Regions from separate parts of the Homo sapiens genome. Here all the other regions are reported to be linked to region 4. Evidence: microRNA targets listed by miRTarBase, many of them from high-throughput screens and not tested one by one. Region 4 holds a microRNA gene; each other region holds the end of a gene's coding sequence.

Evidence for each region. Region 4 holds the annotated microRNA hsa-miR-6842-5p (UGGGGGUGGUCUCUAGCCAAGG, at 963-984, shown strand). A microRNA usually pairs through its seed, bases 2 to 8, with sites in the 3' UTR of a target mRNA and lowers its output. Matches are read on the target gene's strand: a 7mer-m8 pairs with bases 2 to 8, a 7mer-A1 pairs with bases 2 to 7 and ends in A, and an 8mer does both.
Region 1: miRTarBase lists KCNE3 as a target of hsa-miR-6842-5p. Seed matches in the 3' UTR shown: 7mer-A1 at 1,867-1,873.
Region 2: miRTarBase lists TFAP4 as a target of hsa-miR-6842-5p. Seed matches in the 3' UTR shown: 7mer-m8 at 2,106-2,112.
Region 3: miRTarBase lists CXCL16 as a target of hsa-miR-6842-5p. Seed matches in the 3' UTR shown: 7mer-A1 at 1,851-1,857.

What each region holds. Positions count from the first base shown.
Region 1 is chr11:74,453,960-74,458,135 of GRCh38, reverse strand. KCNE3 (potassium voltage-gated channel subfamily E regulatory subunit 3) reads left to right here. Exons shown (of 3, transcript NM_005472.5): 3 at 533-3,295. The coding sequence starts at 573. The coding sequence ends at 884. Among named protein-coding and RNA genes, the nearest start is that of KCNE3, 12 kb to the left of the region's middle.
Region 2 is chr16:4,255,362-4,259,425 of GRCh38, forward strand. TFAP4 (transcription factor AP-4) reads right to left here. Exons shown (of 7, transcript NM_003223.3): 7 at 1,825-2,888. The coding sequence ends at 2,694. Among named protein-coding and RNA genes, the nearest start is that of LINC01569, 3.6 kb to the left of the region's middle.
Region 3 is chr17:4,731,829-4,735,993 of GRCh38, reverse strand. It overlaps CXCL16 (C-X-C motif chemokine ligand 16), which reads left to right. Exons shown (of 6, transcript NM_001386809.1): 4 at 486-902; 5 at 1,342-1,411; 6 at 1,515-2,461. The coding sequence ends at 1,388. MED11 (mediator complex subunit 11) reads right to left here. Exons shown (of 3, transcript NM_001001683.4): 2 at 4,088-4,165; 3 at 2,387-2,944. The coding sequence ends at 2,807. Among named protein-coding and RNA genes, the nearest start is that of MED11, 2.5 kb to the right of the region's middle. RefSeq lists an enhancer at 3,911-4,165.
Region 4 is chr8:27,432,413-27,435,412 of GRCh38, forward strand. It overlaps MIR6842 (microRNA 6842), which reads left to right and starts at 958; the gene lies at 958-1,022. It overlaps PTK2B (protein tyrosine kinase 2 beta), which reads left to right. Exons shown (of 31, transcript NM_173176.3): 11 at 1,023-1,140; 12 at 1,681-1,720; 13 at 2,101-2,147.

The sequences.
Region 1 (4,176 bases), not on the chromosome of region 4:
CCTGCCCTTATTGTTTAGTGTATGGTCTAATGGAGAAGACAAACATGTAATCAAGCAGCTAGAATAAGCTATTGTATTAGTCCATTTTCATACTGCCATGAAGAAATACCTGAGCCTGGGTAGTTTATAAAGAAAAAGAAGTTTAATGGACTCACAGTTCCACACGGCTGGGTAGGCCTCACAATCACGGCAGAAGGCAAAGGAGGAGCAAAGGCACATCTTAAACAGTGGCAGGCAAGAGAGCAGGTGCAGGGGAACTGCCCTTTCTAAACCATCAGATCTCGTGAGACTTATTCACTATCATGAGAACAGCATGGGAAAAACCCACCCCCATGATTCAGTTACCTCCTACTGGGTCCCTCCCATGACACATGGGGATTATGGGAGCTATGATTCCAGATGAGATTTGGGTGGGGACACAGCCAAACCATATCAGCCATGATGCTAAGATTTTACCTGGGATCTGAAGGGAGGAGGTCATTTGAGCTGCAGGTGACAGAGCCATCCCCTCTCTCTTTTCTTTTGCCACCAGAGCTTCTACCGAGTCTTCCCCCACCTCAATCCCTGTTGCTATGGAGACTACCAATGGAACGGAGACCTGGTATGAGAGCCTGCATGCCGTGCTGAAGGCTCTAAATGCCACTCTTCACAGCAATTTGCTCTGCCGGCCAGGGCCAGGGCTGGGGCCAGACAACCAGACTGAAGAGAGGCGGGCCAGCCTACCTGGCCGTGATGACAACTCCTACATGTACATTCTCTTTGTCATGTTTCTATTTGCTGTAACTGTGGGCAGCCTCATCCTGGGATACACCCGCTCCCGCAAAGTGGACAAGCGTAGTGACCCCTATCATGTGTATATCAAGAACCGTGTGTCTATGATCTAACACGAGAGGGCTGGGACGGTGGAAGACCAAGACACCTGGGGATTGCGTCTGGGGCCTCCAGAACTCTGCTGTGGACTGCATCAGGTCTCAGTGTCCCTATCTGTAAGATCAACAAGAAACACGGTTAAGGGAGGTCGTCACTGGGGTGGGAGAAGAGGGGCTGGTAGACCGAAGCCTTGTGCATAAGGATTTTTTCCCAGGAAAAGATAGACTTTATAAACAGTGGGAGCCCATGAACAAACATATAAAAGTAGCAACAGATAATGACCAATAACTGGTTCAGTGGCTGGAGTATTAGGGGCCTGGGGATTGGAGAACGGAGAAGAAGTTGTAGCAGAGGGAAATGAGACAGGAAGATGCTCTGGGGACACATTTTTTATGTGTTATCTTCAGCCATGAGAAGCAGTGATGACTATCCCATATCACAGATATGATTTACCACCACCACCCTGCCCCCGCTCCCGTGAAGAAAGCAGGGCAAGTGCTGTGCTGCCCATTTGGGCCTGCATAGTGCCATGATTGGAACCCAGGAACTCTGGTCTCCTTGCCTAGTGCTTTTCAAAACTCTGTGCTACACAGGAGTGGATCCAGGCCTGAAGGTCATACAATTCTGGGGACTCTCTTTAAGAAAAAGAATTCTAAAATATCTTACTTTTGCAAACATTATGAAAATATACTGCCACATTAATATGTTGCTAGGGCCCCTGCTAGGACCTTAAGAAGGAGCTCATGTGAGTCAGGACCCTGAATGTTAGGCCTCGTTAGCTCTATGGTTCATATGCTTCTTGAACCAAGTCACAGGGCACTTCCCAGCCACATTGCCAGGCAACAGGACTAAACTACCTCCAAAGCAAGCAGTCTTTTCAGTTTTGACTGAGTGATGTGAGAAACTTCTTTTCTTTTCTTTTCTTTTTTTTTTTTTGAGACAGTCTCCCTATGTCACCCAGGCTGTGGTGCAGCAACCCAATCTTGGCTCACTGCAACCCCCACCTCCCGGGTTCAAGCAATTATCCTGCCTCAGCCACCTGAGTAGCTGGGATTACAGGTTCCTGTCACCACACCCAGTTAATTTATATATATATATATATATATATATTTAAGTAGAGACAGGGTTTCACATGTTGCCCAGGCTGGTCTCGAACTCCTGTCCTCAAGTTATCTGCCCATTTTGGTCTCCCAAAGTGCTGGGATTACAAGTGTAAGCCACCACGACTATCTGAGAGAAGTTTTCTGATGTCATGTTGAATCTGCTTCTAAAAGACTGATACTGCCAAGGTGGGCGGATCACCTGAGGTCAGGAGTTCGAGACCAGCCTGGCCAACATGGTGAAACCCCATCTACTAAAAAAATACAAAAATTAGCCAGACCTGGTGGCGGGTGCCCGTATTCCCAGCTACTTGGGAGGCTGAGGCAGGAGAATTGTTTGAACCCGGGAGGTGGAGGTTGCAGTAAGCCAAGATCACGCCACTGCACTCCAGCCTGGGTGACAGAGCAAGGCTCTGTCTCAAAAAAAAACAAAAACAAAAACAAAAAAGACTGATATCGCACCTAAATTATTATTATATTAAAAGAAGCAGAGTATGAGAGACAGGTACATGGTCCAGTAGGAAGAGAAGCAGCCCTGATTCTACCACTTAAGGTGATGTATGATCTTAGGCTGGACACTTCTCTCCCTCATCCGTTTTCCTCTTCAACATAATGAAATAGACTTGAAAGTCTCTAAGGCTCTATCAGTTCTGACATTCTAGGCTTCATATACATTAAGTTGAGCCATATGTAATCACTGTGTTTGTAGGTTAGAAACAGCTGAGTATCGTAGTTTCATATATGGTTCCAGCTAATACATGCAATGTGGCTGGTGAACACTTCTGAATTCAGAAACTATCCCAGATCTCAGCTAGAACCATCCACTGTTCTGTTTGTCCAGTTTCAACTTAAGGGATCTCCATGCGGTCCCTGGAAGTACCCATTGAAACATGCGTATTTGTGTATAGCAGAACTCTGAAATAATATTCTGACAGCAGTTATCTCTGAGGAATTGGGTTATAGGTGATTTTCCCTTTCCGCATGATAAATTTATGTAATATTTGACTGACTTGACCGTAAGTATGTTACTTGTATAATAAAAGGAAAAAAGGTACTTCTATTTTGAAAAAATAAAAATAAAAGCCTTTGGGTTCTTGAATGGAGGATCATGGAACACATTTGCTGCCATATGCAGTTATGTTGATGCTCTGCAAACCTGTGCTGAGCCCTGTTGCTCAAGCCCTTCCTCATCTCTTCTTGAGGGAGAAGGTGGAGACTTCCTTAAGGAGATGTGACATATGGGAAGACAACAGATTCAGAAATTTACGTGGATAGGACTTTAGACACCACCCAGCCCAAACTTCCAAATAAAATATGGAACGCAATTGGGTGTAAGAATGAATGGTTAGGTGATGAATGCCATAAGGATTTTGAGAAATGAAATTGACTAGGAGGAGTCAGACACTTGAATTCATTTAGCTTTTAAAACCCTCATAACAACCCTATGTAGTAAGTAGGTATTCCTTACAAGTATTTCCACAGAGGTGTTTCTGCTGTAGCACCTTCATGTACCTTCAGCCCAGTTTAGGTCCCATGGTAGAACTTGAGAGAGGTAGAACTTGAACTGGGCTTTGAAAGCTAGGACAGAGCTAAATGGGCAGAGTGAATGAAGGGATCAAGATCAGGGAAGCTTGGAGGCAGATGTTGGGGAGCTCCCTCCTGGAGAGGGCAGGTAGGCTGGGGAGACAGCAGGAAGCAGGCCTCCTGGGGCTACTCCATGACTTCAGTGTCCCCAGTGGAGAAGGCTCCCCTTCACACAGTCCTCACACTCCATGGGCATAATCATAAAATAATACAAATTATTTTGGTTGTGAGTTACAGGCACCTGATGTATATTAGCATAAGTACAAAAGGGAATTTCTGAGGTGTATGGGGTAGCTCAAAGTTTAAAGAAGGAGCTGCAGACACCAGGGCAACTCCAGGGATCTCGGGGCCTGGAACAACGGATCTGTCTGAATTCACAAACTAAGAACTTGGTATGTTTCCTTACACACACCCAGGTTGGACTAAATAAAAATCTAGGATTTGAAGGGAGTAAAATTTAAACATTCTAATATCCTATGGTGGCCAGGCGCAGTGGCTCACGCCTGTAATCCCAACACTTTGGGAGGCTGAGGAGTGTGGATTACTTGAGGTCAGGAGTTCGAGCCAGCCTGACCAACATGGTGAAACCCCATCTCTTCTAAAAAAACCCACAAAATTAGCC
Region 2 (4,064 bases), not on the chromosome of region 4:
AATTTTTTAAAAAAGATATTAAAACCAGAAAGCAGGTGGTTGCTGGAGACTGGGAGGAGGGGGAAGGAGTGACTGCTTCATGGAGTCATTTTGGAGTGACGGACATGTTTTGGAACCAGGTAGGCTGTGTAACACTGTGAATGTATGAAGTGCCATTGAATTGTTCACTGTAAAATTCCAAGAAAACCTGCAGACTCCTGCCTTTCTGTGAAGAGTTCGTGTCCACTGTCATCGTGGGGTGAGCTGTGATTCTGCCTTCTGCTCTGGCCTCAGTCCCCAAGCACCCAGCACTGTGAGCATGAGGCATAGGAGGGGACCACGGTGTAAATCGATCTCTGGTCACGGAAGAGTGAAGGATTTAAAGGACCATGGCCTAGCCTGGGCAACATGGCAAAACCCTGCCTCTACAATAAAATATAAAAAAGTCAGCCGGGCCCAGGCCAGGCACGGTGGCTCACACCTGTAATCCCAGGACTTTGGGAGGCCAAGGTGGGTGGATCACCTGAGGTCAGGAGTTCAAGACCAGCCTGGCCAACATGGTGAAACCCCATCTCTACTAACAATACAAAAATTAGCTGGGCATGATGGTGGGTGCCTGTAGTCCCAGCTACTCAGGAGGTTGAGGCAGGAGAATCGCTTGAACCTGTGAGGCAGAGGTTCCAGTGAGCCAAGATCGTGCCATTGCATTCCAGCCTGGGTGACACAGCAAGACTCCATCTCAAAAAAAAAAAAAAAAAAAAAAATTAGCCAGGCTTTGTGGTACAGGCCTGTAGTCCTAGCTACTAGGGAGGCTGAGGTGGGAGGATCACTTGAGACCAGGAGGTCAAGGATGCAGTGAACTGTGATCAAAACACTGCACTGCAGCCTGGGCGACAGAGCAGGACCCCATCTCACACCAAAAAATAATAATAAAAATTTAAAAATAGCCAGGCATGGTGGCTCATCCCTTTAATCCCAGAACTTTGGGAGGCCGAGGTAGGCGGATCACTTGAGGTCAGGAGTTCAAGACCAGCCTGGTCAACATGGTGAAACCCTGTCTCTACTAAAAATACAAAAATTAGCTGGGCATGGTGGTGCACTCCCGTAGTCCCAGCTACTTGAGAGGCTGAGGCAAGAAGATTGCTTGAACCCAGGAGATAGAGGATGCAGTGAGCCGAGATCACGCCACTGCACTCCAGACTGGGAGACAGAGACTCTGTCTCGAAATAAAGGACCATGCCAATCCCCAATAGGATGCAATGTCCTTGTGCCGTTATTATCGCCAATTTTTAGAAGAAGAAATTGAGGCTCAGAGGAAGCGGTTTGTCAGAGGGGGAACTGACCTCTGGCAGACCAATTCCAGGATCTTAGCACTTAAACACCACACCACGGGGGGGCAGGGGGGTGCTGGGGGGGTGCGGTTGGAGGGGGTGGGGTTCCCCTCCTAGGGGAGGAGAGGATGAGGCTCAGAGAAGTTACAGAAGCCCAGGAAGTGGCAAAACCTAGGGATTAACCAAAGCGTAGGGACCAAGCAGGGCCCCTGAACACCTGTGTCCTTTCCCAGGTTTTCGGAATCGGTGGCTTGGTTGTCCTTCTCTCCTTGCCGCCCACCAAAGAGCCACTCCCCAGCCTCAACACCATCTTCCATCTTTACAGAATACCCAGGGTCATCCCAGGGAAACTGAGGACCCCAATTTTTCATCGCAACACCACACACAAGCTGAGGGAGTAACTGTGCTCACACACACCCAGTCCGCTTTGGGGGGCCCAAGGAGCCCCCCTACTCTAGATGGGGTAGCCCTGCCCTGGTCTTCAGGCCAGCCCACACCCAGGAGACTCAGAATCTAAAAAACAAAGTACAAACTTTATTTTGTTTCTTTACAAAGGCACGGTGGCCTCTTGGTTTTTTTCTCCCCACTTTCTTAACAAAATATAATAGCTTCTCCTTGAACACGAAGACCTCAAAATTGTAAAAAAAAAAAAAAAAGAAAGAAAAAAAAGAAAAACAAAACAAAAACAGAAAGCAAACCAAAAAGAAATAAAAAACCAACAACAAACAAAACAAAAAGAGAGAGACAGACATTTTTGGGGTGGAAGATGAGACCTGGAGGCAGAGGTGGGGGCTGGGGGGTGGGAGAGTGGCGAATTCTAGTGCCGAGATGGGGAAGGGGGAGGGGGGCACAGCAGCAGCAAACCCCAACCAAGAAGCAACGGAGACCTCCGGGCCCCCAGAATGCCCCAGCCTAGTCTTACCCCCAACCATGTAAGTGCTTAAAGGAGAAAGAAGAAAACCCAAAAAGAGGAAGGAAAGGGGATTGAAGGCTGACAATCCCAGGCTGGCTCTGGGCAGGGAAGAAATAACCTGGGGTTTTGTTTAATTTTCCCTGTTCTTAAAAAACATATTTAAAGGAAAAAATGCTTTTTGGCAGAGAGAGGCCAGGCATCTCCGTGTCAGCTTCCTCCAGCCCCCGGGGCCGAGGCCCCGCCCTGGGGTGCCGATGCTCCCACACGCTCTGCGACACCCCAGCCCCGGGACCTCGGGTTGAGTGGCTTCGTTCAAAGGTCGATTTACAGTATTGAAAAAGAGGTCATAAAAGAGACCCAAATGACATCGTAATTTTGTAAAAATTTCTCACTCATTCGCCCATGTCTCTCCCTGTGGCTGCCCCGGCTCCCTCCAGCCCCCAGAAGGGAGAGGAGGGCTGGGGGGGTAGTCAGGGAAGCTCCCCGTCCCCCGACGGCTCCTCCCGGCTCTGGTCCATGGCGTCACTGTCTGAGGCCTCGGAGTCGGAGGCGGTGTCAGAGGTGGGGGCCTCCGGGCAGCTGCGGACAGGCTTCACGATGACAGCTCGCCGCTGCTCCTCCTCCAGCTCCTGCTTTTCCTGGGTGCCCTCGATGTGCTGGATTGCCTGGACAGGGACGAACCACTGAGAAGGCTCGGCCGGGGATACATGGCCAGCCAGGAGACAGTGGGGGCTCTCAGCCAGCCACTGTCACCCCCAAAACACATAGCCCAGAAAAAAGCCTGGCAAAGCAGCAGGGGAGGCCCGCTAGAGTACAGGAAAAACAAACTCCTTTTACTTTTTTTTTGGAGACAAGCTCTCGCTATATCACCCAGGCTAGAGTGCAGTGGCATGATCATAGCTTACTGCAGTCAGACTCCTGGGCTCCAGCGATCCTCCTACTGCTCCCTCCCTAGTAGCTGGAACCACAGGGGTGCGCCACCATCCCCAGCTAACTTCTGTATTTTTGGTAGAGACGAGGGGGTTCTTGCTATGTTGCCCAAGCTGATCTCGAACTCCTGACCTCAGGCAATCTTCCTGCCTCAACCTCCAAAAGTCCCGGGATTACAGGCATAAGCCACCACGCCTGACCCAGGAACAAACTTTCAAAACCCCTCTGTTAAGTTGAAAAATCCATTCTGGGAAGATGACAGTCCCAGTGCTGCTTAGAAATTATATTATATGTATCAGCCAGGCGCAGTGGCTCACGCCTGTAATCCCAACACTTTGGGAGGCCAAGACGGGAGGATCACCTGACGTCAGGAGTTCGAGACCAGCCCCTCAACAGAGGCCAGAAGCCTACTAAAAATACAAAATTTGCCAGGCGTGGTGGCACATGCCTATAATCCCAGCTACTTGGGAGGCTGAGGCAGGAGAATCACTTGAACCTGGGAGGAGGAGGTTGCGATGAGCTGAGATAGCACCATTGCACTCCAGCCTGGGCAATAAGAGCGAAACTCTATCTCAAAAAAAAAGAAAAAAAAAGAAATAATATGGACCTTTCATATGTTTTTGTTTGTTTGTTTTTTGAGAAAGAGTCTCACCGTGTCACCCAGGCTGGAGTTCAGTGGTGCAATCTCAGCTCACTGCAACTTCCACCTCCCATGTTCAAGCGATTCTCCTGCCTCAGCCTCCCGAATAGCTGGGATTACAGGCGTGCACCACCACGTCAGGCTAATTTTTGTATTTTTAATAGAGATGGGGTTTTCACCATGTTGGCCAGGCTGGTCTCGAACTCCTGACCTCAAGTGATCCACCCACTTTGGCCTCCCAAAGTGCTGGGATTGCAGGTGTGAGCCACCA
Region 3 (4,165 bases), not on the chromosome of region 4:
GGTTCAGGCGATTCTGCCTCAGCCTCCCATGTAGCTGGGATTACAGGCACATGACACCATGCCTGGCTAATTTTGTATTTTTAGTAGAGACTGGGTTTCTCCATGTTGGTCAGACTGGTCTCGAACTCCCGACCTCAGGTGATCCACCCACCTCAGCCTCCCAAAGTGCTGGGATTACAGGCGTGAACCACCGCGCCCGGCCAATCCAATCATACGTCTATACAGCTGTCCATTCTTCACAGCAAGCCTAAGCATAAAAATGCACTTTTCTCGGGTCTTTGTTTCTGAAGGTTCCTATGTCATGTAAAACTGTGATTAAATAAATGTTAGGCTTTTCTCTTGTTAATGTTTTTTATTTATAGGGGTATCAGCCTTGACCCTTGCGATGGGTGAGGAAAAGATATTACTTTTTCTCCCCTACACCTCTATCTGCTTTTTCACCTTGTCTCCTGATAGTCCTGATTCCTCATTTCTTTCCTTTCCAGAATGTGGACATGCTTACTCGGGGATTGTGGCCCACCAGAAGCATTTACTTCCTACCAGCCCCCCAATTTCTCAGGCCTCAGAGGGGGCATCTTCAGATATCCACACCCCTGCCCAGATGCTCCTGTCCACCTTGCAGTCCACTCAGCGCCCCACCCTCCCAGTAGGATCACTGTCCTCGGACAAAGAGCTCACTCGTCCCAATGAAACCACCATTCACACTGCGGGCCACAGTCTGGCAGCTGGGCCTGAGGCTGGGGAGAACCAGAAGCAGCCGGAAAAAAATGCTGGTCCCACAGCCAGGACATCAGCCACAGTGCCAGTCCTGTGCCTCCTGGCCATCATCTTCATCCTCACCGCAGCCCTTTCCTATGTGCTGTGCAAGAGGAGGAGGGGGCAGTCACCGCAGTCCTCTCCAGGTAAACTGGACCTTTGAACCCTCCCCCCAGGGACCCAGAGCCTTCCTGACAGGCATCCTGACCCAGTGGCTCTCAGGTGGCTGGAAACCTGGCCTTGGCACACAAGTATCAAGGTTGTCTGCACAAGGTTGACTCTGGGCCCTCTGAGGACAGTCAGTCGGGGACTGTAGACAGTGGAGAGGGAAGGAAGCCACCACAGGCACAAGGACTAGTGCTTGGAGCAACATCATGGAGAAGATGGCTAGAGCAAGCTAGTGGGAGATGAAGCTGTGGAGGGAGGTGAGGGCCAGTCATTCAATTCACAAATTTTCACTGAGCACCTACTGTGGGCCAGGTCATAGTGTTGATGTCTTCATCTGATTCCCTAGTTCAAGCTATCATCCCCCAAACACTGTCCTTGATCTCAGAGCTCATCTCTCAATTTCTTTATCCTTTCCAGATCTGCCGGTTCATTATATACCTGTGGCACCTGACTCTAATACCTGAGCCAAGAATGGAAGCTTGTGAGGGTAAACTGTGGCTTATTCTTACAAAAAGTGTAATAAAGGAGACTGACCCCTGACAACATGGTAGGCACTGTATACATACTTGTTTTTGTTTTTTGTTTTTTAGAGACGGACTCTATGTTGCCCAGGCTGTTATGGAACTCCTGAGTCAAGTGATCCTCCCACCTTGGCCTCTGAAGGTGCGAGGATTATAGGCGTCACCTACCACATCCAGCCTACACGTATTTGTTAATATCTAACATAGGACTAACCAGCCACTGCCCTCTCTTAGGCCCCTCATTTAAAAACGGTTATACTATAAAATCTGCTTTTCACACTGGGTGATAATAACTTGGACAAATTCTATGTGTATTTTGTTTTGTTTTGCTTTGCTTTGTTTTGAGACGGAGTCTCGCTCTGTCATCCAGGCTGGAGTGCAGTGGCATGATCTCGGCTCACTGCAACCCCCATCTCCCAGGTTCAAGCGATTCTCCTGCCTCCTCCTGAGTAGCTGGGACTACAGGTGCTCACCACCACACCCGGCTAATTTTTTGTATTTTTAGTAGAGACGGGGTTTCACCATGTTGACCAGGCTGGTCTCGAACTCCTGACCTGGTGATCTGCCCACCCAGGCCTCCCAAAGTGCTGGGATTAAAGGTGTGAGCCACCATGCCTGGCCCTATGTGTGTTTTTTAACTACTAAAAATTATTTTTGTAATGATTGAGTCTTCTTTATGGAAACAACTGGCCTCAGCCCTTGCGCCCTTACTGTGATTCCTGGCTTCATTTTTTGCTGATGGTTCCCCCTCGTCCCAAATCTCTCTCCCAGTACACCAGTTGTTCCTCCCCCACCTCAGCCCTCTCCTGCATCCTCCTGTACCCGCAGCGAAGGCCTGGGCTTTCCCACCCTCCCTCCTTAGCAGGTGCCGTGCTGGGACACCATACGGGTTGGTTTCACCTCCTCAGTCCCTTGCCTACCCCAGTGAGAGTCTGATCTTGTTTTTATTGTTATTGCTTTTATTATTATTGCTTTTATTATCATTAAAACTCTAGTTCTTGTTTTGTCTCTCCGAATGAAGAAGTATGTATTTTCATTAGGCCAAGTCTGCGGGAAGGCTGGGGCAGCAGCATGAAGTGTTTGAGGAAGTGGGTTGGGTATGTCAGTTTCCATCTCCTCTCTGAGCCTGTCAGGGTGTTTCTGGAGTGCAGAGCAGGAGCACCCTGCTGGAGAGGCCAAAGCATAGCTGTGGGCAGGCTCGGGCTTCAGTTTTTCCATGCCCACCATTTGCCCCTTTGTCCTAGGGTACTTTGACCAGCAGGGTATGTTGGTGCTCATACTCCCCACCCTACATGTTCCCAGGTTCTGTCCCATGGCACAGGTGATGGTCTCCCTCTCAGCTCTGGGTCCATCTCCCTGGCCTAGTTCTCCAGCATCTGCTCACAGGTTCGAGCCACATCACTGAGCTTGAGGCGGGCATAGTCCACTCGCTTCAGAGCCATCTGACAGTCCTTCCTCGAAGAGTAGCTGGAGCCCTCATGGGGCTGCCCTGTGGCCACCTACAAGACAGACTATCAATGGAGCACCATCTCCTTTACCCTAACTCCAACCAGGCATCAGGTCTCGTCTCATTTCTTCCCTGAGTTTGAATTTGTTAGGCCATCTGGTAGCTGGGTAAATAAATCATTTAACTTATGTTAATCTTGTCTGTAAAATGGGGGTGACAATAACTACTTCCTAGAGTTGTTGAGGATTAGATAAAGTAATGCAGAGTATCTGGCACACCGTAAAAATTAGTAATGGTAGTGGTCCCTGCGACGATTTCAGAACCTTCTCAATCCTGTCCCTCTTCTCAGGATATAAGGATTTGGGACCTCGTGGCCTGGAGGTCAGGCCAAGTTTCCAGTGACAAAGTTCTGTAGTTCTAGCATTATTTACACATCTTCTGCTAGGCACATGTGATGTTACCCAGTGAGGTATGCAGGGCCACCTTTAATTCTTTCATTTTATTATTTATTATTTTTTGAGACAGAGTTTTTGCTCTGTTACCCAGGCTGGAGTGCAATGGCATGATCTCGGCTAAGTACAACAACCTCCGCCTCCTGGGTTCAAGCGATTCTCCTGCCTCAGCCTTCCAAGTAGCTGGGGTTACCGGTACTCACCACCAAGCCCGGCTTTTTTTTTTTTTGAGACAGTCTTGCTTTGTCACCCAGGCTGGAGTGCAGTGCTGCAATCTTGGCTCACTGCAACCTCCACCTCCTGGGTTCAAGCGATTCTCCTGCCTCACCCTTCCAAGTAGCTGGGATTACAGGTGCCCGCTACCAGCCCAGCTAATTTTTGTATTTTTAGTAGAGACGGAGTTTCACCATGTTGGCCAGGCTGGTCTCGAACTCCTGACCTCAGATGATCCACCCGCCTCAGCCTCCCAAAGTGCTGGGATTACAGGAGTGAGCCACCGAGCCTGGCCTAATTTTTATATTTTTAGTAGAGACGAGGTTTCACCGTGTTGGCCAGGCTGGTCTCGAACTCTGTCAAGCCACTGCGCCCGGCCCATTCTTTCCTTTTAGAGGAAGAAACCCGCTCTGGATGGCCGGCTGGGGAGGTCTGGTCCTGCCCAGTTAATGCTCCACCCTGGATCACCCAAGCCTGAGGCTTTGACCCAGAGCTGGGGTTCGCTCGCAGAACCCCCCAGACACACCGACCTGGGTGAGGTAGCGGATCTGAGCTGACAGCTCCGCCTCCACGTGTTGCACTGAAGCGGTGAAGGCCGCCGCCTGCCG
Region 4 (3,000 bases):
GCAGATTGGGAGCTCTTGCTCAGACCAAAAGTCTGTGACACACAGGAAGCCAGGAGCTTCCTGGCTTTGGGGATCGTGTTAAGAAAACTGCACCAAGTTCTTAGACAAAAGGTACCAGGATGATGATAAATTGTAGGAAAATTCGGGAAACAATTTTTTTAATGTCAGGAGAAGAAATTGGGAAGGTTTTCAGGTAGTGGAATGTTCAAGGTGACCAGAAATCAGGTATAAATCACAGGCCTAAGTTATACCAAGAGAACAAGGATGCGGACATCAAGACCTCAAAAACATGGGTTTTTTTGTTTGTTTGTTTGTTTGTTTTTTACAGTAAAACACCCAGAGAGACCTCAGGCTGCATCTCTCTCTCCTTTCACCCATCTGTGCCCTGCCCCATTGCCTCCCCTTCCTCTTTCTTTCTTTCTTTCTTTTTTTTAGACAAAGTCTCACTCTGTCACCCAGGCTACAGTGCAGTGGTGCAATCTCAGCTCACTGTAACCTCCACCTCCACAGTTCAAGAGATTCTCCTGCCTCAGCCTCCTGAGTAGCTGGGACTACAGGTGCATGCCACAAGGCCCAACTAATTTTTGTACTTTTAGTAGACACAGGGTTTCACCATGTTGGCCAGGCTGGTCTCAAACTCCTGACCTCAGGTGATCTGCCTGCCTCGGCCTCCTAAAGTGCTGGGATTATAGGCATGAGCCACTGTGCCCAGCCCCCTCTTCCATTTTCTCAGTTTCTGCTTCTATTTATTGAGCACCTACTAGGTACCAGGCATCGTGCTATGTGCTCAGAGGCCAAAATAAGTGAGGCCTGGGACTGGCCTTTGGAGAGCATGGGCGTACAGGTGAAAGGGGTGACAGAGTGCAGTCTGGACTCCAGGGCAGGGCCCCAGGAGAGGTGCAGACAGCATTGGCATCCAGGCAAGGGTTGTGGCAGGGGTCCTGCCATCTCTTCTCCAGCCCTGGGGGTGGTCTCTAGCCAAGGCTCTGGGGTCTCACCCTTGGCTGGTCTCTGCTCCGCAGGCCTTGTCCATCAAAACCTCATCCCTAGCAGAGGCTGAGAACATGGCTGACCTCATAGACGGCTACTGCCGGCTGCAGGGTGAGCACCAAGGCTCTCTCATCATCCATCCTAGGAAAGGTGGGTTCCATTTAAAGGTAAAGTGGCTGGACCACGGGTGGCAGCACACCCGAGTCCCCAGAGGCGGAGTGGCAGAAGCTAAGCCACTGATGGATAAGTGAATGAGGATTCTTCCCCCACAGCCCAGCGGGAAGCTTCCAGTGGGCCCATCTTAGGCTTTAAGCCCTGGCCGGTCCACCTACCCACAGCCCTGCTAATCAAGGTCCACATAGAGGCAGCTTCTGGAGGAGAGGCGTTTTAGCCCCAGCAAGCTCAAAGCCATTGCTAGTAGAAGGCTGGTCCCGCCTGTGTGTGTCTCCATCTTGGGTCAGATTCAGGAAGCAGGGGTCACAGCTGGAGCACGTGAAATCTGGCCTGAGGCAGCCTCCAAGGAGGATTCCACTTCTGGCCCAAGGCCTCACTAGCTCCCAGGCTAGGAGAGAATGGAATTAGGGGCTGGGATGGGAGGAGAGTCCCTTGTAGGAATAGTGAGGAGGTCAGTCACCCATCCAGGTCCCTGTGTCCCCAGCTCCAACCTCCTCCTTCCTCCTCTCTTCCTAGATGGTGAGAAGCGGAACAGCCTGCCCCAGATCCCCATGCTGTGAGTACAATGGGGTGCAGAGGACAGGGCCCTGAGCTCAGCCTGTGCTGCTGAGAGGAATAAGAATAAACTGGGAGTCCCCACCTCCATAGTTTCTGGCTTTCAGGCCCAGGAGAACCCTGAAAAAAGATGATCTTTCCCTCCCAATAAATACCTGCAGGAATATTCCTATGCCTTCATGCCACCTGGTGTTATCCTGGGGGGTTGCTGCTGTCCCCCAACTCCAGCCCCCAGCAGCCTGGGCTGTGCTCCCAGGTCATTGCTAATTTGGACAGACTACTTCTCCACAGGGGGCAGGAGGAGAGGGCGGGCCGAGGCTGCCCAGGGGAACATTACCGGCCTCTGAGCTCACCTGGCTTCTGCTCTCTCACCTCCTACAGAAACCTGGAGGCCCGGCGGTCCCACCTCTCAGAGAGCTGCAGCATAGGTGAGCTGCCCGCTGCATCCTCCACCTGCTCCAGTTGCCTCCCGTCTGCTTGCTCCCCACTGCTTGCTCTCGTGACATTGCCGAGGGTTTCCTCCAAGTGACAGAAAAATGATCCTCTCCCATAACTTCTCAGTGATGGCTTTAAAATATCGTGAATTATGGCTGGGTGCAGTGGCTCATGCCTGTAATCCCAGCACTTTGGGAGGCCAAAGTGGATGGATCATGAGGTCAAGAAATCAAGACCATCCTGACCAACATGGTGACACCCCATTTCTACTAAAAATACAAAAATTGGATGGGCATGGTGGCATGTGCCTGTAGTCCCAGCTACTTGGGAGGCTGAGGCAGGAAAATAGCTTGAACCTGGAAGGCGGAGGTTGCAGTGAGCTGAGATGGCACCACTGCACTCCAGCCTGTCAACCCAGCAAGACTCCATCTCAAAAAAAAAAAATCATGAGTAGTAATCGCTAGTGTGTATTGAGTACTTAGTACATGGCTTAAGCAGCTTGGGCTGCCATAACAAAATACTATAGACTGGGTGGCTTAAAACCAGATACTTTATTGCTCACAGTTCTAGAGGCTGGAAGTCCAAGATCAAGGTGCTGGCTGAGTCTGCATCTGGTGAGGGCTTTCATCCTCATTTGCAGATAGCTATCCTTTCACTGTGGGCTCACGTGATGAACAGAGAGTTCTGGCCTCTCTTCTTCTGTGTACATGAGCACAGATCCCATTATGGGGGCTCCACGCTCAGGACTGCACCACCTCCCAAAGGCCCCACCTCCTAATCCCATCGCATTGGGAATTAGGGCTTCAACAAAGGAATTTGGGAGGTACACAAACATCCAGTCCTTAA